Homo sapiens: one gene and its partners. The protein of the gene in region 2 purifies or fractionates together with the protein of the main gene of each other region. This does not show direct contact. Each region holds a gene or a part of one and is shown on either strand. Other genes may lie near its edges.

Region 1 (7,108 bases), on a different chromosome or scaffold from region 2:
GGCCAGTAGATCACTTGCGGTCAGGAGTTCAAGACCAGCCCGGCCAACATGGTGAAACCCTGTCTCTACTAAAAATATAAAAATTAGCTAGGCATGGGGGTGGATGCCTGTAATCCCAGCTGCTCAGGAGGCTGAGGCAGGAGAATTGCTTGAACCCTGGAGGCAGAGGTTGCAGTGAGCCAAGATGGCACTACTGCACCCAGACTGGGCTCAGTCTTAAAAAAAAAAAAAAAAAAAAAAAGGCCGGGCGCGGTGGCTCACGCCTGTAATTCCAGCCCTTTGGGAGGCCGAGGTGGGTGGATCACGAAGTCAGGAGTTCCAGATCAGCCTGGCCAATATGGTAAAACCCCGTCTCTACTTAAAATACAAAAATTAGCTGGGCGTGGTGGCGCACACCTGTAGTCCCAGCTACTCGGGAGGCTGAGGCAGAAGAATCACTTGAACCCTGGAGGCGGAGGTTGCAGTGAGTCGAGATGGTGCCACTGCACTCCAGCCTGGGTGACACAGCAAGACTCCGTCTCAAAAAACAAAACAAAACAAAAAACAAAATCCCAATAGATTTTCTTAGTGGAAGAGATGGTAGGTCTGTTCACCATTCACAGGTCAGGTCCTCTTTTTTTTTTTTTTTTTGAGACAAGTCTTGCTCTGTCGCCAGGCTGGAGTGCAGTGGTGCGATCTCAGCTCATTGCAACCTCCGCCTCCCGAGTTCAAGCGATTCTCCTGCCTCAGCCTCCCAAGTAGCTGGGACTACAGGCGTGCGCCACCATGGCTAGCTAATTTTTGTATTTTTCATAGAGACGGGGTTTCACCATGTTGGGCAGGATGGTCTCAATCTCTTGACCTTGTGGTCCGCCCACCTTGTTCTCCCAAAGTGATGGGATTACAGGCGTGAGCCACCATGCCCAGCAAATTTTTTGGCAGACAACTTAGAGTGAAGACTGACTGAATTAATTAATTAATTTTTGAGATGGAGTCGCACTCTGTAACCCAAGCTGGAGTACAGTGGCGCAATCTCAGCTCACTGCAACCTCTGCCTCCTGGGCTCAAGAGTTTTTGGTGCCTCAGTCTCCTGAGTAGCTTGGACCACAGGCATGCACCACCATGCTCAGCTAATTTTTTTGTATTTTAGTAGAGAGTACAATTTTTTTGGTATTTTGTATGTTGCCCAGGGTGGTCTTGAACTCCTGAGCTCAGGTGATCTGCCCGCCTTGGCTTCCCAAAGTGCTGGGATTACAGGCGTAAGCCACCGCGCCCAGCTCACAGGTCAGGGCCTCTTATCTCTGACAGCCCACAGTGAGCAACAATATTGACAATAGGTGTGCTTTATATCATGCTAAATCTTTTTGGGAAATTAAAATCTGTGAGTGTTTATAGGAATGTATGACATACATAAATGTCAGCATACACTTTGCAGTGGGTAAAAAAGAACTTCCAGATAATAGGAAAATGCTCATATTCCTTACCACATACAGCCCTTATGGCCTGTGAGCTCTGATCCAGCTACTTGCCGGCCTTCCACCACCACCTGCCTCTAGCACCCTATCCCTTTATCTTCCCTAGACCAAGCCCCCTGCAGATCCCCAAAGAGGCCATGCTTTGCTTTTTTAGTGGGGAGGGATGGAGTCTCACTCTGTTGCCCAGGCTGGAGTGCAGTAGCGCCATCTTGGCTCACTGCAACCTCCACCTCCCGGGTTCAAGTAGCTGGGATTACAGGTGTGCACCACCACACCTGGCTAATTTTTCTTTTTTCTTTCTTCTTATTATTTTTTTTAATTGAGACAAAGTCTTGCTCTGTCGCCCAGGATGGAGTACAGTGGGACAATCTCGGCTCACTGCAACCTCCGCCTCCTGGGTGCAAGCGATTCTCATGCCTCGGCCTCCCGAGTAGCTGGGATTACAGGCGCCCACCACCACACCTGGCTAATTTCTGTATTTTAGTAGAGACGAGGTTTCACCATGTTGGCCAGGCTGGTCTCAAACTCCTGACCTGGTGATCAACCTGCTTTGACCTCACAAAGTGGTGAGATTACAGGCATGAGCCACCGCGCCCAGCCTAATTTTTGTATTTTTAGTAGAGACAGGGTTTCACCATGTTGGCCAGGCTGGTCTCAAACTCCTGACCTCAAGTGATCTGCTTGCCTTGGCCTCCCAAAGTGCTGGGATTACAGGCATGACCCATGGGGCCATGCTTTTCTGCACTTCCAAGCCTTCCCTTGCTAGTGCTCGCCTCCTCAGAGCTCACTGCACACTGTGAACCTGCCACATTTGACTGCATTTGTTTGACTCCATGTCTATTACTGTTTGGACCAGGGATCAGATTTGGCCCAAATAGACTCTCCCTCTGGAGCATCTTTGGAAAAAATTCTAACATTCTACAGCTGTCAAATTCATCCCAGGCTGCCCCAGCCAACTCACCACCCATATTCATGCCCTCCTCATCTAGGTCCTGTCCACTGTCATAGCGAGTCTTTTTCTTGGGATCAGAGAGGATAGTAAAGGCCTCTCCAACTTCCTTGAACTTCTTCTCCTCCTCCTTCTGAACCTCAGCACTGGCTCCACTATGCCGATCTAAAGTGGGGAGTAAAAGAACAACTCAGTGGAAATCAAAGTTTCAAGAAAACAAAGTTTAAGAGAAAAACTACTTTCTGTCTAATTTTGGAATTTGGCACTTCCCAAAATTTGGAGGGTCCACAAGTCTGCAACACCTTATTCTCAGCTGAAGGACCTCTCCAAGGGGTCCCCTCTGGACTGAGTGTGGCAGTTGGCCTGCCCTGCGGGTTCTTCCCACTGAGCCCACTCCCCGCACCTACTCTACCTGGATGGTGCATCAAGGCCCGTTTCCGATAAGCTTTCTTGATCTCGTCCTCAGAGGCATTCTTGTCCACTCCTAGAATCTTGTAGTAATCTTTCCTCTTACTCTTCTTCAGTTCCAGCTGCGCATTTTTTAGGAGCTGTTTGTGTTCTACAGGAAGACATCTGGCATCAGTGGACAAATCTGACTCTGGTTTTTTCCTCACCAGGTCTCAGCCCAGCTGCCTGGGAGTTAGAGGCCTTGTTAACCATGCCAGGGACTTTTACGGTGCTTTCTTCTGGAGATTAGAAAAAAAATCTACTCGGCCAGGCACGGTGACTCATGCCTGTAATCGCAGCACTTTGGGAGGCCTGCATCAATGAGAGATGCAGGTAAATGAGACAGAAAAGGGAACTCTAAACACAGGTTTGCTTCTATTTCGGTAGCACGAAAGAAAGGAGGGGCCCTTGGCCCAAGATGGGAGGAATCAAGCTTGACAGAATGGATCACCCGAGGTCAGGAGTTCGGGACTAGCCTGTCCAACATGGTGAAACCCCATCCCTACTAAAAATACAAAAAATTAGCCAGGCGTGGTACCATGTGCCTGTAATCCCAGTTATTCGGGAGGCTGAGGCAGGATAATTGTTTGAACCTGGGAGGCAAAGGTTGTAGTGAGCTATGATCATGCCATTGCACTCCAGCCTGGGTGACAGAGCAGGACTCCATCTTAAAAAAAAAAAAAAGAAAAAGAAAAAAGAAAATCTACCCAGACTTAGGTTCCTCACTTTAGCCTCACCACACAAAAAATGAAATGAAAACGACAGGGAGGATCTGGAACCAGAAAATAGGTGCCTCATGCCCCAACCCAAGATATCTGTTCACTTTTTTTTTCTTTTTTTTGTTTTTGTTTTTGAGATGAAGTCTCGCTCCGTCACCCAGGCTGGAGTATAGTCGCGCAATCTTAGCTCACTGCAACCTCCGCCTCCTGGGTTCAAGGAATTCTCGTGCCCCAGCCTCCTGAGTGGCTGGGATTACAGGCGTATACCACCATACCCACAATTTTTTGTATTTTCAGTAGAGATGGGGTTTCACCATGTTGGCCAGTCTGGTCTCCAACTCCTGATCTCAGGTGATCTGCCTGCCTCAGCCTCCCAAAGTGCTGGGGATTACAGGCGTGAGCCACCACGCCCAGCCTTTGTTCACTTCTTTCTGGCTGGTGATCAAATAAGTTCTAGGTAGATCCCTGATCCCTGAATCAAACTACCTTGTGTACAGATTTATGGCCTACGAAGTCCACACAGTTCCCTAAAAAACAAATGCTTTTAAACTTACCTTTTGTTTTCTCTGTCTGGTATACTTTTTCATAGTCTCGTACTGCTTCTTCATACTGTTCTGTGTCCATGTAACTGAGAAGGAAATACAAGGCAATACAGCACTAAGACATAAATAGCAGTGGTTCTCAGGATCACTCTAGGGCAAGAGGCATGGCTCAAGCAAGAGACACACACTTCTGGTAAGATGCTTCAGAAACAGGAGCCCTTAATCTAGCAGTGAGAGAAAATTAGCTAACAAGTCCTCAAGGAAATAAAAAGAGAGGTCGCATGGCACTTGCATCCAACCAGCAAAGTGATGTTCAGCTTTGAGCAGAAAGTAATCAAGAGGAAAAAGTTCCTTCTGACACACAGCCACCTAAGAGGTACTGGACTGCCTTAGAAAAGACAATGTGAAGGGATCTACTTGATTACTTTGGGTTGAAACACACAAGAGAAAAATTATCAAGTGAATAAATGGGTATGAAAGAGCTTTGAAACCTATAGTGCCATAAACATGCAGGACTAGCTACAATCCAGAATAGAGGTGGGATTAGTGAGCCACTAAAAGGATCAAGTTCAACGTGGCAGCTGCTGGCAAATCCCTCCACTAAGACCAATCAATGAGAGATGCAGGTAAATGAGACAGAAAAGGGAACTCTAAACACAGGTTTGCTTCTATTTCAGTAGCACAAAAGAAAGGAGGGGCCCTTGGCCCAAGATCGGAGGAATCAAGCTTGACAGGATGATTGCGAGATCTTTTTTTTTTTTTTTTTTTTTTGAGATGGAGTCTCGCTCTGTTGCCCAGACTGCAGTGCAGTGGTGTGATCTCGGATCACTGCAAGCTCCGCCTCCTGGGTTCACGCCATTCTCCTGCCTCAGCCTCCAGAGTAGCTGGGACTACAGGCGCCCGCCACCTCGCCCAGCTAATTTTTTATTTTTTTTTTTAGTAGAGACAGGGTTTCACCGTGTTAGCCAGGATGGTCTCCATCTCCTGACCTCGTGATCCGCCTGCCTTGACCTCCCAGAGTGTTGGGATTATAGGCGTGAGCCACCGCACCCGGCCGACTGCCAGATCTTTTAAGTGTCTCTTCCACAGAAGCAAGTGGCATTTTCCATGCCCAGATAAAATCACTGGCACCAGGGCTGGCCTACCAATTGAAGACTGTGGTAGGAGTTCCAGAGACAGCCACTGTCAGCTGGGGAATGGGAAGTGATCATGCAGTACAGCTAGCTGCTGTACAACAGAGATTCAATTTCTTACCTGCTACCACACAAGCCCATTTTCTTTCTTTTTTTTTTTTGACACAGAGTCTCACTCTGTAGCCCAGGCTGGAGTGTAATGGCACGATCTCTGCTCACTGCAACCTCCGCCTCCCAGGTTTCAAGTGATTCTCCTGCCTCAGCCTCCTGAGTAGCTGGGATTACAGGCATGTGCCACCACACCTGGCTAATTTTTTGTATTTTTAGTAGAGATGGGGTTTCACCATGTTGGCCAGGCTGGTCTCGATCTCCTGACCTGAACCGATCTGCCCGCCTCGGCCTCCCAAAGTGCTGGGATTATAGGCGTGAGCCACTGCGCCTGGCATAAGCCCATTTTCACAAACATCACAGATCCCCACCAGCTTGGAGGCCAGGGCAGGAGAGTGCTACCAATGTGGCTGGCAAAAGAGAAGCCCAACATCTTGGGCATCTTTGATTTTCTGGCATCATTTTGATTTATGACTTTAAAAAAACCAATGGCCTGCAAATACAGGACATAAATATTATATTAGGAGTTCAGAATCAATGTACAGAATAAAATGTAATAATTTGAAGTAAGAGAAATGATACTTTGATACTGCACTCCAGCCTGGGTGACAGAGCTGGATCCTGAATTAAAAAAAAAAAAAAAAGGAAAATTGATAGCTGATAGCCCTGGGTATAGAATGATGTGACAAATGATTAACCCTGATGAACTTTCTTTAGGTCTATATGTAATGTATTAAACAAACTATACTAATTTGCATTTTTACTTCATGCTTTTTAAAATTCAGGGATATCCTCACATTTTAATTTTGTTTTAAAGTTGAAGTAGAAAAGTAAATAGGGCTTTAAGGAGAAAGGGTGAACTCTAGCTCATGATGGCATGTGTAGCAAAGATGTGGGTGGGTGGCATCTCCCCAGCTTTAGGGGTAAGTTGAGGCAGACTGCAGCAGTAGTCAGGCCAGATGTAAGGGTTTGGCCCGAGCTAATCTCCAGTACTTCTTGTCAATTCCAGCTGCTTCAGGAGATTGTTGCCAAATATTCAGCCAGCTGAACAGGGCATGCTGTCTCCCCTGTAGTGATCTCAGAGGCAGAGCCACTCCAAGAAGGGCAGTTCTGTTTCTACCACAAAGATAAGAAGTTGTCTGATCAAAGCAATTCCTTATTTTCATTTCTTGCACATAAACAAAGAAGAAAATAATCCTTCATCCAATTATCCTCCGAGCAAATCAAGAATTTTCTATGGTGTTGGGGGCTTGCTTAAAAAAAAAAAAAAAAAAAAAAAAAAAAAAAAGGCCGGGCGCGGTGGCTCACACCTGCTGGTAATTCCAGAACTTTGGGAGGCCAAGACAGGCAGATCACTTGTCATCAGGAGTTTGAGAACAGCCTGGCCAACATGATGAAACCCCATCTCCAATAAAAATACAAAAATTTGCTGGGTGTGGTGACATGCGCCGGTAATCTCAGCTACTTCGGAGGCTGAAGCAGGAAATTCGCTTGAACTCAGGAGGTGGAGGTTGCAGTGAGCCAGTACGGTGCTACTGCACTCCAGCCTGAGCGACATAGCGAGACTCCATCCCGAGCGACATAGCGAGACTCCATCCCAAAAAATAAAACAAAGCGATTTTTCTCTTCTCTTCCCATCCCCTGGCATTCCATATACAGAGCATTCCATTAAGTTCATACAGTATCAAGTATCTAGCCACCCCCTTCCCACTGGACATGTAGGTGATTCTCCCCCCGCCTTTTTTTTTTTTTTTTT
Region 2 (7,108 bases):
TGGGCTCTAGCCTGAAGCTGAGTTGTATGGGGAAAACAGACTGACAGAGCCTAGCGGAAGGGAAACCTGGAAATTTCCCTAAAAGTCTTTCAAAGGTACACGTGCTTTGACCCAGCAATTTCATTTCTAGGAATTTATGCCAAGGCGCCAAGTTGGGACAGGTGCAAGGACCTAGCTAGAAAGATGCCTGCTATTTACAATAATACAAAAAAGCTATAAGCAGCAAACATGTCCAGTAGGACTGGTAAAGAAAGCTGTGGAACATCCACAAGACACAATAAAATGCAGCTGTAAATACAAGGCAGGTGGGGACCAGGCAGGAGGGAGGGGTGCTGGCTGTAAAAAGCACAACACCAGGGACCTTGTGGTGGTGGCAGTGTTCAGTGCCATGACTGTGGTGGGAGATTACACATGCCAACATGGGTGGGAAGATCACTCTAGAGCTATGCACACTGTTACCGTTGGGGGAAACTAGGCAAAGGGTTTAAGGGATCTCTGTATTATTTCCTACAATTTATGTGAGTCTACAATTACCCTAAATTTTGCCATGCAGAATAAGAACATTTACCATTTACTGACACAGAACGATGCTTTAGGAGATTGTTGAGTGAAAAGGCCAGATGACTAGTGTACAGCCAGCACTTCATAGACAGTGATGGGGCTGCCATAACCGAATGTGAGGTGAAATGAGAAGATAGCCATAAAGGAAGGGATGAGAAGTCTTGTTTACAGGCCAGGCTCAGGGAATACAGTAAATCTGAGGTTCCATCTATAGGTAGCAATACGTATACACATAAAAGTCATGAAAAGTATTTGCAGTGTGATTCCACTTTTGTTTAAAAATGTTCTTATAAAACCACATGCTCCTAATTGTATATTATGCATATATTATATATACACGTAGAAAAGCGCTAAGCAGATGTATTTCAACATGTTTAAGAGTGATTCTGTCCTGAGGATGGGATGCTGAAGGCTACAGTTTCTCGCTATGCACGTCTCTGTTTTATGGCAATTCTACAGTGAGCACCATCTGCCTGGGGTGCAGAAGGTGGAGGGGAGACCATCCTGCATTCGGGAGGTCAATCTCAGGCGCCTGTCTGTGGTTCTGCCCTCCCCCATTCTGTGGCTCCACCCTTCAGTGCCCCATTTCTGTTCTGGCCACCTCCTGGTTCAGAGAGCTTGTGCAGAGTCCCATGCTCCCTTATTGGCTCACAGACCTCAGCCCACACCCCCCACCCACTCATTCTCTCTCTCCCCTCTCTCTCACACACACATCACCACCATCACACACGTACTCACACACACACCCTGCCGGACTCCCGGCTTTGCTGCTCACTCCATTCGGCCCCACGCTGGGCTCTCTGCAAAACACACGCTGCTGACAACACTGCATACCCCTCCCATCCCTACAGAAAGGGGACAAGGAAGAAACTGATACTCAGGGAGGTTGAGCTGTTTGCCCCCAGTCACACAGGTTGCAAGGAGTGGAGACAGGGCGGCAGGTTCCAGGCCCAGACTGCCTCCCACGACCTCACAGCTGCCATTCTTCTCTCCTTGCTACTCTCTCCCCAAAGCACCAGCAAAGGGCCCAGCTTCCCTGGTCTTGTCAGCCTTGCCAGTGCTAAGAGTGGACAGGCACCCCCAGTTACCTGCGGCACCTCCACGGCAGAAATGGAGAAGACATGGAGGCAGAAGATCTTGGAGCCATTGTAGCCGACCACAAAGCCCTGCAGCTTCTGCCGGTGCACAGGGAAGGTGCTGGCTTTGATGTTGAGGTAGCCTCCTCCCGAGAAGCAGAGCATGTCCTCACACTGGGTGTTCCAAGCTACACTGTTGGCGTTTGGTTCCTGGGGAACAGGGACAGTGGGGATCCTGTGAGAACCACCCTGGGCTTGGTCAGCGCTCACACATTTCAGCCCAATACCCTCTTAAAGACTGAATCCCACTAAATTGCTTACAGTGGGATGGAGGGAAAAGGATGAAAGGGGACCACAAAGAAATGAACAGAGGCAAGAGAAATGAACAGAGGCAAGCCCCTCCATGCACCTGCGTGTTGTTGGAATTTTTGAGTAAGCAAGTATTACTTTTGAAAAAAAATTATTCTCCTGAAATATGCTCATACCTTTCTGCCTAGGATCTTTTATAATGACTAAATCTTTTATAATCAGCATGGATTGTTTTTTATAATGAGAAAAAATCAATATAGCTGTTTTATGTGTAGAGGGAGGGGCAGTGGAGAAGAGGAAAAGCCAGCAGGCAATGTTACAGCTGGGAATGCTGATGTCTCCTGGCAGGGCTGAGAATCACCTCCCCTAGCCTGCCATAGAGCCAGCAGTGGGGATGGGGCAGCACAGACGCCCTTCCACACTTGTATGATTCTAGGCTCAGACACAAGATTCACATTTGGGGCCAGCTATGCCCCCTATAGGTGGGAGGTGAGGCTGGGGAGAAGGGAAGTAACATTTCAGGCCCCATTTTGTGCTCAACACTGAGCTAGGCACTGTAGTATCTAGTGTATTCCTGTAGCAATTCTGTAAGGGGCAATTACTAATTTCATTTTAGAGAAAAGTAATTAAGGCTCAGAGAGGCTCACTAACTTAAGATCACACAGTAAGGGATGCAGGCAGGACCCAAGCCCAGGTCAGCTTGAAGGCTATGCCCTCTCTTTCCCCGAAACCATTCTACTCTCTCAAGGACATGAGTGAGTTGAGACTGACATGGAGTTACCTCTGGGCTAGAGGTGGCCAGGTAACTCCTTCTAATTGACTGAGGCTGCTCCCCACTCCAGACCCCTCCCCCATCGATTCTGCTGCTGAGAACAAGGAGGAGCCTGGTAAGGGGACTGAATCTGCCCATAACATCAGGAAACCCTGCAGTGGCCGAGGAAACCAGTCAGGAGGGGCTCCAGCTTTGGGGGGAACTTCACTCTGGAAAACCAGTCCTGACCACCTACAAAGACCTAAAGAGAGAAAGAATGGCGCGAGCCCAGCAGAAAGCCAACCAGGCCCGGGGCACAGAGCTGCCGGGCTGTCTTCTCTGGTGACACACTTCCTCAGGCCACAGGGCTGGATGACTCCACTGAACAACGCCTACAACCCCAAAGATCCAAGCACTTCGCATTCTGCTGGCTCTTCTAGCATTCTTGTGAATTAAGTAGAAGGCCAGGCTTGCCCATCCCCTTCCCCCTTTCAGATGACAAAACATCCTGTTTCCTTCCCACGCTGTAGGTGCGCATAGACACAGGCAGGCCTGCAGCAGGTGAGACACAGACTTCTGCAAAGGAAGTGCATCCATCGCCCCATTCACTGAGTGCCAACGTCACACCCCTCTCAGAGTCATTGCCCCATTTCTTGTTCATGGTAAACGCTTAAGAAAGGCTCTGCTGGCTCAGAGCCTTCGGTTTCCATTGGCAAGGAAACCAAAGTTAAAGAGGCCGGTCCAGGCCCTGCGGCTTGTGCCTGTGTGGGAGGAGCAGGTTGTGGCCCAGGGCCTCTGGGACTCTGTGCATGTGCTTGGCCCCTGCCCCTCCCAGAGACCTGCCTGGGCCAGAGCAGGAGAGCCTCCTGCAGGGACTGGGAAGCTAGAGGAGAGTCTCTAATCAAAGGATGATGTCCCTGGGCCCCCTCAGGGACTTCACCTGAAAAAGCAGCTCCTTGGTGTCGATGTCATACACCAGGCAAGTGTCATTTTCATCTACCACGGCCAGCTTCTTACGGGAGGCACTCATGTCCAAGCAGCGCACAGCTGTGGCCTGCTTCAGCAGGACGATAGCAAAGAGATTGTCCACGAAGATCTTCAGGATCTGGCAAAATTTCAGCGAAAACAGTGTCAGTCACCATGGCAACAAGATCCTGGCCCACTGCCAGGCCGTTGGAATCCCATGTGCTCTGCAAGAACAACTCCCACCACCTTCACCAGAAGCTCTGTGCAGGGAAAAGGACTCATCAAAAGAAAGAGGGGGGTGGGGGGCAATGGCTTATCCTTAGGAGGCCAGAAGCGAGGTTCATCAGAGGCTGCAGAAGTAATGACAGCCCTGAGACAGGCCGAGCTCACTTCAGTGTCTGTTCGGACTGGGGATTTGTTGATGACATTACCCAAACTGCAGCTTTAGGAGATGCCACCTAGCAGAGATCTGAGTCACGAACTAACACAGGAAAAAGCTACTATGAACACTGACAAGACATGTGGTAGAAAATTATAATAATGATGATAGTGATCATGATAGCTATCATTTACTGATATCCCTGGTTTAAAAAAAATTTTTTTTAGAGATAAGGTCTTGCTATGTTGCCCAGGCTGATCGCAGTGGCTATTCACAGGTATAATCATATCACACTGCAGCCTCAAACTCCTGGGCTCAAAGTGATCCTCCTATCTCAGCCTCCTGAGTAGCTGGGAAAACAGGTACCCTCCACCATGCCTGTTTTAATACCCCTGGTGTTTTTTTTGTTTTGTTTTGTTTTTAACATTGGCTTTAACTCCCAACCCTGATGATATCTGTTTTTGACAGCCCTATGAAATATGTGGTATTATCCTCATGTAAAACCAGCCTCACAGAGGTAAAGTGACCTGCCCAGGATGACAAAGCCAGTGAGTAGCTAAGTAAGAACACGACCTCCGGCCCACCTGACCCCATAGTCCATGCTCCCATTGGAAGTGAGAGCTGCCTGAGAAATAAGCGGCCCTTCCTCCCCTTGGCATTGCTGCTTGACTTCACCCACTGCTCTCATGCCCTGTGACTTCCATCCCCAGCAAAGACCTGACAAGCCTCAGCCATAAGCCATCTGCTGCACAGCTTGGCTGTCAGGCTAATGCAGCTACATTGTCACTTTCAAAGTTCCATGTAGCAGCCTACTTAGAACTTTTCTTATGCTGAGCAAAGAACACACGTGTACACATGTATACACACACACAGAATTTTGTGTAACCTGGATATCCCACATCTAACTGGCCAAAGGGCCCATTTTGCTTATGACATCTATCAGTATCTTGAGGACCCAGCATTCTTTAGGACACATGCTGGAACGCACTGCCTTAATCCACTCGCTGCCCTAATCAGGAGCTGACCTAGGTAACGATCTCTGCCTCCCTCTAGAAATCCACAGAAGCAACATCTCTAACAAATCTCCCACCTTCTGGAGACCTTAAGCCACTAATACACTCTACATGTAGCCAAAGGTTATAGCTCAACTCTGCCAAAACGTGGGCCTGCTAGGAGTGTGAGGGCCACAGCACCTTTGGCCTGAGGCTGTCCTCAAAAAACTGAACTCAGGCTGCCCCACAATTCACCCATGGAGGAGAGAAGCCCTTTTCCTGCCCTGAGAACCCAGCTCAGAGTCATTGCTAGACGGGTCACCCACGTGTGCATGCAGATTATCAGCCTGACAGGAGACGTGAGGGAGCACTCACCTGTCCATTCTTCAGCCCCACTAAGAGGCCTTCTCTTCCAGGAGGGCCACCGATCACCTTGATGTAACGAATGAGAGACTCCATCTGCCACTCCCGCTCCTTCACTCCGCTGAAGGACAGGCACTGCAGCCGTTTCTCCTAGGAAGCAAACCCAGCTCTGCATGGAAATTCAACAGAATAAGTGCCCCCAGACCTCCCCAAGGAGATCTTTCTGTCCCTAAGGGGAGAAAATACCTACACATTCAGTATCCATCTATCTAACCCAATGTAGACCCCACGATTGGCATCGTTAATCCAAGACTCCATGCAAGGCTTCCCCACGGAGCCCAATTCAGCCTCAGATCTTCAATGCAAACCCCCACCCAGGCAGCCTAGGCCAGAGGCAGCACTCAAAAGTACACATACTTGCCACATCTATCCTGTAATTTGTAGCAACCCTAAACCGCTTGGAGTTCTAACTTTGATTATTTATTTATTATTTGTTTTTGAGACAGAGTCTCACTCTGTCACCCAGGCTGGAGTGTAGTGGCGCTATCATAGCTCACTGCTGCCTCCAATTTCTGGCTAAAGCAATTCTCCTGCCTCAGCCTCCCAAGTAGCTGGGACTACAGGCAAGCGCCACCACACCCAGCTAATTAAATAATTTTTTTTTTTTTTTTTTTTTTTTGGTGGAGATGGGGTCTCTGTTTTCTAGACTGCTTTCGAACTACTAGCCTCAAGCAATCATCCTGCCTTGGCCTCCCAAAGTGCTGGGATTTACAGGCATGAGCCACTGCACCCAGCCCAGTTCTAGGCTTTTGAGAGATTTTAATAGTATTTTACACTACAGTGATTCCTAAGGAATTCTTCTCTTTTATCACCTCCAACAGAACTATGTAAAACTAAATCCACCTCTACTTCCAAGATGCTGGGCTAGCCTTCTCTCAAAGTCTTTCCAAACTTCTCTTGGCATTGACTTAGACACTCTCTAAGAATCTTGAGAAATATTTTTCTATGAAAAAAAATCTTTCAGGAATTAAAACTTCCTTGACAATTACTGAGTTGATACAAATTTTATGTGTATATGCTTATCAATAAAAACTATCTTCATTCTGTACACCAATTTATGTTTTAAGTCATTAAAGTATATCTAATCCCAGTATGACAAGATGTTCTGCAATAGAACAAGGTATTCTTGGCTAGACACAGTGGCTCACACCTATAATCCCAGTACTTTAGGAAGCTGGACAGGTCTCAAACTCCTGGGTTCAAGCATTCCTCCCGCCTTAGCCTCCCAAAGTACAGCCTCGCGTCTCTACTAAAAATAAAAAATTAGTTGGGTGTGGTGGCATGTGCCTGTGGTGCCAGCTACTCAGGAGGAAGACCGCTTGAGCTTGGGAGGTCAAAGCTGCAGTGAGCCATAATTGTGCCACTGCATTCCAGCCTGGGCAACAGAGCAAGACCCTGTCTGTCTCAAGAAAAATATTTTTTAAAAAATAATAAAATAAAACAAAAAAACATTCTCCAGTTTATGGCTCATGACTTGCTGATAGAGTCTGGTTCATCCAGATGCCAGGAAAATGAAAGCCAATAAGCACCACTTAGTTTGATGGAACAGACTTGTTTTCTAGTGACCAGTTTTAAAACCATGAGGTGGGCACCCTATCACTGGGGGGGGAGCACAAATGGAATTCAGCCCAACTCCTTCAACATGCTGCTG
Region 3 (7,141 bases), on a different chromosome or scaffold from region 2:
TAATTTTTTGTATTTCTAGTAGAGACGGGGTTTCACCGTGTTAGCCAGGATGGTCTCGATCTCCTGACCTCGTGATCCACCCACCTTGGCCTCCCAAAGTGCTGGGATTACGCGCATAAGCCACCACGCCTGGCCTTTATGTATATTATGTATATATTATATATATATTACAGTGGTAATGAGGTGTGTGTATATATATACACATATATGTGGAAAACATATATATTCATATTCATATCTCATATTATCACAATAGACATATCTTCTCCACTATTTTTCCCACACTAATTGTTAGATGGCTAAATTTATTGGGTCAATTTCTCTGCTTACTATACCACTGCAATTATATAAGCAAACTGAACCTTTGGAAAATGCTAATTAATAAGGCAGGGTTTGACACGACTGGGTTTGAAAGGCCAGCAGTGGGGCTAGAAATACCTACCACATACAACTGTGCTGCCCCATCACTGAATAATCTACTTTAAGCACTGAAAGAAATTCAGAGATTATTCAGTGATCCAAGTCCCACAATTTTTTCTTTCCAGAGTACCAACAATCATCAAATTATGTGGTCCTGACACCCTCATAACAAGAACCATCAGTACCTTCTTCTGTATCCCCCCAAAATATTTTAACCTGCATCACTTACTCTATACATTCAAACCTAGTTAAAGCAGAAAGCAAAACTATTTTCTGACTGCCTCAATGATATATCTGGAGTTGTCTAAGTAATGGATTACACAGTTCCCAATTACTTGTGAACAGTATCAATGGTCTTCAAAAATACTACAGTTCCTATACCCCCCGTCCCAGTCCATATCCACCTCCTCTCCATCCCAACCCTTCACAGTTACACAAGCATACTAAATCAAAGCAAAGGAATTGAACACCAATATAAGCCTGGCAGAAATCTGAAATCACTGCCGCCTCAAACTTTAGATCACTGCAGCGCTCAGGTGTACTGTGACTCAGCATTTTACAGTGCCTGAGACATGAAATGAGATAAAGGTCCTTTTCCCTTCACAGCATTGGCTAAACATGAAGCCAAAATAAATATGCTACCTCAAAACAGTTAGTGGCTGGAACATTACAGTGCTCACACTGACACAGGTTTATCTCAGTCTGTGATCCTTGGGAGGAGACCCTGTGTCAGTTTAAGCACACAAAGTTCTTCTGAAATAACTCGAGCTATAAAATTAGCAAATTATGCTGACTACAATTAATACCCAGAAATGGAGAAAATATTGCAAAGAAATGAAAATGAAATTCAAAAATAGTTACTGTGGTTACTGGTCTAGTCAGGTAAAAAACTAAAATAAAATAACAAGAACAAAAGAGGGAATTTACCCAGCTACTCTTCATTACAATATCAGAAGCTAAAATGGCATCAAGAGAGAATTTTTTCCTCTTGCAAAAAAAAAAACTGAGTAAAACTGAAACAAATAGGAAACTCCAGCCCTTTTAAACTGTTCATGGGCAGAAGGAAAATAAGATAAAACAATATGAAACAAATAAGATAAATTAATATGAAGGTTGCAACAAAGACAGATTTTCAGTTCATATTCTTACGTGGAGCAGGAACTAACAGAGAAATGAGACGAGAGAAAATGATAACTGACAAGCAAGGAGATTTGGGAAGATGAGGTCATGAAAAGGGACGGAGGGGCATTCCCCATAGGTAATGGAAGAAGTCAGGGAATCCCAGTAGAAAAGCCAGAAATTTAAATGAGCAAAGACAACGTAAGCATATGGGCCAAGAACAATAGTTTATACTTAATTTCTTTTAGCTTCTTAGTAATTTTTTAAATTTTAATTATTTATTATTATTTTGAGACAGGGTCTCACTCTGTCACCCAGGCTGGAGTGCAGTGGTGTGATCTTGGCTCACTGCAACCCCCACCTCCTGGGCTCAAGGGATTCTCCCACCTCAGCCTCCCGAGTAGCTGGGACTACAGGCGTGCGCAACCACCCCCAGCTAATTTTTGTGTTTTTAATAGAGACGGGGTCTTGCCATGTTGACCAGGCTGGTCTCGAACTCCTGACCTCAAGTGATCAGGACTTGAGGCAGGAGTGATCCCGCCTCAGCCTCCCAAAGTTCTGGGATTACAGGCCACTGCGCCCAGCCCTAAGTAATAGAAATGTATAACTCTTTTAAACCAATGATATAAAAAATAACAAGCCCCATCTTACACCTGAGGAAACCTCAGAAAAGTTAAGTAACTTGCTGAAGGTCACATTGTTCCTAAATGGCAGAGTCAGACTACCAACCTACACAGTCTAACCTCGCCATAACTTTACACCGTCTCTTACGAACATCTCAAAATGTGAAAAGTAGAGAATTGGATTTTACAGCCGTGCATGAGGATGACGTCAGCATTTACACGGCAATGGCGGTTGGCAGAGGCAGTGGCTCAGGCCTGCAATCCCAGCACTTTGGGAGGCCAAGGTGGGTGGATGATTTGAGATCAGGAGTTCGAGACCAGCCTGGTCAACATGGTGAAGCTCCACCTCTACTAAAAATACAAAAATTAGCCGGGCATGGTGGTGGGCGCCTGTAATCCCAGCTACTCGAGAGGCTGAGGTGGGAGAATCACTTGAAGCCGGGAGGTGGAGGTTGCAGCGAGCTGAGATGGCGCCACTGCACTCCAGCCTGAGCGACATAACGAGACGCTGTTTCAAGTAAAAAAAAAAAAAAAAAAAAAAAAACAAAAGAGTTCGAGATCCTACCACAAAAGGTACAAACGAAGGGTGGTGGGAACTCGAATGAGATAGCAGTGTTCACCAGTGCCCAGTAAAGGAAGACTTCACAGAGGGAGCAGGATTTCAGATGGGATTTGAGGAAAAGGGTTTAAGGACTATTAATGACTTATCACTGATTACTCTTAGGGTTTTCAAGCTAAATTTCAGAGTCCTTGTCATGGAATTCAGGCCCTCCACAACTAGGTCAAAGGGAACGCCAAGGAAGAAACATTATCCTGAGTGAGATGCTTATGCTGAAGTCTTTGCTATCAGTTCAGGTTCCAAGGGATCAGAAAACCTTACTTTTCTGTCTCCATAAACCGTAAATGGGTTGAAGGCAGGCACTTTTGTAACACTCCTCTCCCCGGACCAGGCCTCTGTACATCATAGCACTTGGTAGATGCACAGCATACTTTCTGAGCGAAACTAAAACGAATGTAAATCAAGTCACCTGGTGGCCAGACTTGCCTTACACCATCTAAACCTCTGGTGTTAGCTAATTTTAAAGCTATCAAGTAAGAGGCTTAAACACGTGGTCCAGATGCAACATGTGGACCTTGGTTTGGACCCGGATGCCACAAACCAATTGTAAAAGGACATGAGATCATCTGAAAAACCTAAATATGGACTGGGAATTAGATTAAGGAATTGTTAATTTCATTAGATGAGATTACATCGTTATGCCTTTAAAAGTTGTCTCTTAGATATTAAATATATACACTTAGGGTATTTATGAATGAAACGGTTTCCCTTAAAACACTAGAAATGTATGGTGGAGCCAATGAAACAGGTAAAAGGTAGCTAACTGCACTATGGGGAGTAATATACTGCTTCTGCTAAATGTTTCAGAATTCTCATAATATAAAACACAACATACACACACACGCGCCCCCCAGTTTTTTTCATCGTAAGCCCCGAGGGAGCCAGACCCAGAGGGTCCACCGACGTCCCGGATTCTAATAACGACATCTGCGCGCCAGGCGGGCCTCCTGCGGGAGCCGGGGCCCATTTTCTTTCGAAGCTAACGAAGCTGCTGCGCAGGCCTGTTAATTCCCTCAGCAGCCAGTGCGAGGTTAAACACGCGACCTCGCAACCATGGCTTTTGAGAGGAAGCTGAATTCCTGGGGTGCGCCGTGCACAGTTCTTCATTTCCTACGTTGGCCCTGCCCAGCCGCCTGGACCTGGAGGAAAACAGAGAACCTGGCCCACTCTTCAATACTTCGACCCCAGTGGCCGCGCCTCGGGCGCTCGGGGGCGGGCTCTGCACAGCGACGTCACGGCGCACCGTGCGCTGGGTCAAAGTTCAGCCCCGCCCCCGCTTCCCCCTCGCTGTCTCCCTCGGCCTGTGCCGCCGCCGACGCCGCTTGTGGGCCCGACTCCGCTCTGTCTGCTTCGCCACCTTCTCCCCGAGCACTGCCCGGCCGGCCGCCATGGCTAACGTGGCTGACACGAAGCTGTACGACATCCTGGGCGTCCCGCCCGGCGCCAGCGAGAACGAGCTGAAGAAGGTATCTGGGAGCGGGCCGGGCGGGTGTGAGGGGCGCGGGGCCTGCGCGGCCAGGGATGTCTTCTTCAGCCAGGCCGCGCTACTGGGCTGCCCGCGAGCCGGCGCCGGCCGTGACTGGCCCGGGCTGGGAGTCGGCGGCGGCGGCGGGACCGGCCTCGCCGCGAGCCGCGCACTCCGGCCTCGGCTGACCTTGGGGCCGCCGGCCCCGCCCGCCCGCAGATGCAGCAAATAAAACTCACTCCTGCGCAAACACGATGGGAGCCCTTCCTTCCTCCCTCCTTGAACGAGCGCCGGGGGCTGGTATCCCCCGGGAGGCAGCAGCTCGCCCGGTCCTTCGCGTCGAGGTCACCACCCCGGAAAAACAGGTTGGACCGAGGTGCTCAGCGCATCCCGGCCCCGAGAGAGAAGCTGTCCGCCCCGCGGCCGTCGGCCCCGGGTCTGGTGCTCCGCGGGGAGGAACGGCGGGGAGGTCGAGGCCGCCCCCACAGAGCGCCTCGGGCGGATGGGGTTGTTTCCTGGGTTCCGCGGCCGCCGGCTGCGGGAGCTCCTCCCTCTCTGCGTCCCTCGCCCATTGACCCGGAGGTAGCTGGGTCTGTGTTTGGATGCATTGTTCTTTGGGCAGGTAATGCTAATGTCCTGTACCTGCTTAGGAATAAGCCGTGGTCCCAGCCAAACGCCTGAGTGTACAGTAAACATAAATAGAAGGCCTTATTATTGCTATTTGCAATGCTGCGATATCTTTCATCTCAGGATTTCAAAGCACACGAGGCATTTAAGCCCCACAGCATCCTCACCAGGCTAAGAGCATCCAGATTTGTAAGCCGAGAAAAATGAGAATGCTCCTTAGGCAGTGAGAAGAGTACAGTGGACTTCCTGTTACCTTACCGGAAATGCTAGTCTGTATTATATAATTCACGAGCCTCCGTGAATGAAGATTTAAGTGCTTTAGGACCCAAACACCTCGTTGAGAGTGTGTGCAACTTCTCTACCACCGAAGTTGCCACCACGACCCCAGTTAACCACCACGTGCAAATAAAACACCAAAAGACGCTAACTAGGACCACCTTTACTTTTTCATGATGTTACAGTTAGAAGGAAGGCGTGAGCCATCGGGAGCAGGAATTGTGACTTTAGCTTGATTTATAGTAATGTTTTGCAGTCCGCAAAGCTTAACAGTCATTTATCTCGAATTTATTAGGGTCGTCTTGGTCTGGTTACTTGGCCATCAAAGACACTTGACAATAGGGAAAATATGGATAATGTTTGAACGTTTTGTTTTTCCCTGTGGCATTGCTTCATTGTTTTATCTGGTTTTCACGTCACTGTAACCTGTTTTCAAGTATAGCTGCTGTCTACTTGGTTATATTACATTAGTAAACAGTATCGCGAGAAAGTGCCGAAGAATCCCTACGAATAGAAAATATTTTTGAAAGGTTATAACTCTAGAACATTACTTCTCAGAAAAGTGGATATTAAGTTATTACAAAACTTTTAACTGGTGTTTAGTTATAACCTTTTTTGTTTTTATCCATTTTCAAAGGCATACAGAAAGTTAGCCAAGGAATATCATCCTGATAAGAATCCAAATGCAGGAGACAAAGTAAGTTATTTGCACCTTTTTTATTCCGGGGGTTTTAGCTTTAACTTAAATTGCCCTCCTTGAAAAAGAGGAATGTTGCAGGAAAAAAATCCAACTATGCCCACACAGCCACATTTTCATAATGTCAAGAGTATTTTAGTTTTAGAATAAGAGTACTACCATTCTGAGGAGCGGTGGGTGGTAAATAGAACCAGAATCAAGTCAAAGGTAACTTGTCCCTTTTTTTTTTTTTTTAGAATTAAATGGATTCTGGATTCCTGTAGCTTCTCCCCACTCTTCTACTTGAAAATGCAATTATTTTTATTTTTACCTTTTCTTTATAGTTTAAAGAAATAAGTTTTGCATATGAAGTACTATCAAATCCTGAGAAGCGTGAGTTATATGACAGATACGGAGAGCAAGGTCTTCGGGAAGGCAGCGGCGGAGGTGGTGGCATGGATGATATTTTCTCTCACATTTTTGGTGGGGGATTGTTCGGCTTCATGGGCAATCAGAGTAGAAGTCGAAATGGCAGAAGAAGAGGAGAGGACATGATGCATCCACTCAAGTGAATATCTTGTTTTGTTGTTTTAAAAAATTAAGTACTTTTTGTCAAGTGGGATAATGACTCAGTAGATGAAAAATCTCATAGAGTGTTCTGTCCTTCATTAGAAAAACTTCCATTTGCCTTGTCTTCTTTTGGTGACTAAATTGAATTTGATTATCTGAATGTTTCTATTTCGCTGTAGCTCTTAAAAGGACAGTCGATATTTTTTAATGAGAGGAAGGTGGTTTTATATGGTTCTGAGGCTGCTTGTTATTATAGGACTTAAAATTTCAACTGTGAAGATCATTTTCTCTCTCTCTCTTTTTTTTTTTTTGAGACCGAGTTTCGCTCTTGTCCAGGATGGAGTGCAGTGGCACAATCTCAGCTCACTGCAACCTCTGCCTCCTGGGTTCAAGCGATTCTCCTGCCTCAGCCTCCCAAGTAGCTGGGATTACAGGCATATGCCAACACACCCGGCTAATTTTGTATTTTTAGAAGAGATGGGGTTTCTCCATGTTGGTCATGCTGGTCTCGAACTCCCAACCTCAGGTGATCTGCCTGCCTCGGCCTCCCAAAGTGCTGGGATTACAGGCGTGAGCCACTGTGCCCGACCTTTTTTTTTTTTTTTTTTTTTTTTTTGAAATGGAGTCCCTGTCGCCCGGGTTGGAGTGCAGTGGCACCATCTAGGCTCACTGCATCCCCCTCCTCTCAGGTTCAAGAAGTTCTCCTGCCTCAGCCCCCCAAGTAGCTGGGATTACAGGCACCCGCA

Evidence for each region.
Region 1: the proteins of IFT122 (region 2) and DNAJC7 purify together in Homo sapiens (co-immunoprecipitation; 4 studies listed by BioGRID and IntAct, with this or other methods). This does not show direct contact.
Region 3: the proteins of IFT122 (region 2) and DNAJA2 purify together in Homo sapiens (co-immunoprecipitation; 2 studies listed by BioGRID and IntAct, with this or other methods). This does not show direct contact.

Annotation. Positions count from the first base shown.
Region 1 is NC_000017.11:41,979,440-41,986,547, forward strand, and holds part of DNAJC7 (dnaJ homolog subfamily C member 7), read right to left. Parts: intron 6,469-7,108; exon of another isoform or gene 4,198-6,468; coding exon 4,124-4,197; intron 2,963-4,123; coding exon 2,816-2,962; intron 2,569-2,815; coding exon 2,416-2,568; intron 1-2,415. UniProt on the Homo sapiens protein: Acts as a co-chaperone regulating the molecular chaperones HSP70 and HSP90 in folding of steroid receptors, such as the glucocorticoid receptor and the progesterone receptor.
Region 2 is NC_000003.12:129,478,224-129,485,331, reverse strand, and holds part of IFT122 (intraflagellar transport protein 122 homolog), read right to left. Parts: intron 5,567-7,108; exon of another isoform or gene 5,548-5,566; coding exon 5,410-5,547; intron 3,803-5,409; coding exon 3,638-3,802; intron 1,848-3,637; coding exon 1,650-1,847; intron 1-1,649. UniProt on the Homo sapiens protein: As a component of the IFT complex A (IFT-A), a complex required for retrograde ciliary transport and entry into cilia of G protein-coupled receptors (GPCRs), it is required in ciliogenesis and ciliary protein trafficking.
Region 3 is NC_000016.10:46,970,601-46,977,741, reverse strand, and holds the start of DNAJA2 (dnaJ homolog subfamily A member 2), read left to right. Parts: upstream 1-4,067; 5' UTR 4,068-4,169; coding exon 4,170-4,247; intron 4,248-5,786; coding exon 5,787-5,846; intron 5,847-6,169; coding exon 6,170-6,393; intron 6,394-7,141. UniProt on the Homo sapiens protein: Co-chaperone of Hsc70. Stimulates ATP hydrolysis and the folding of unfolded proteins mediated by HSPA1A/B (in vitro).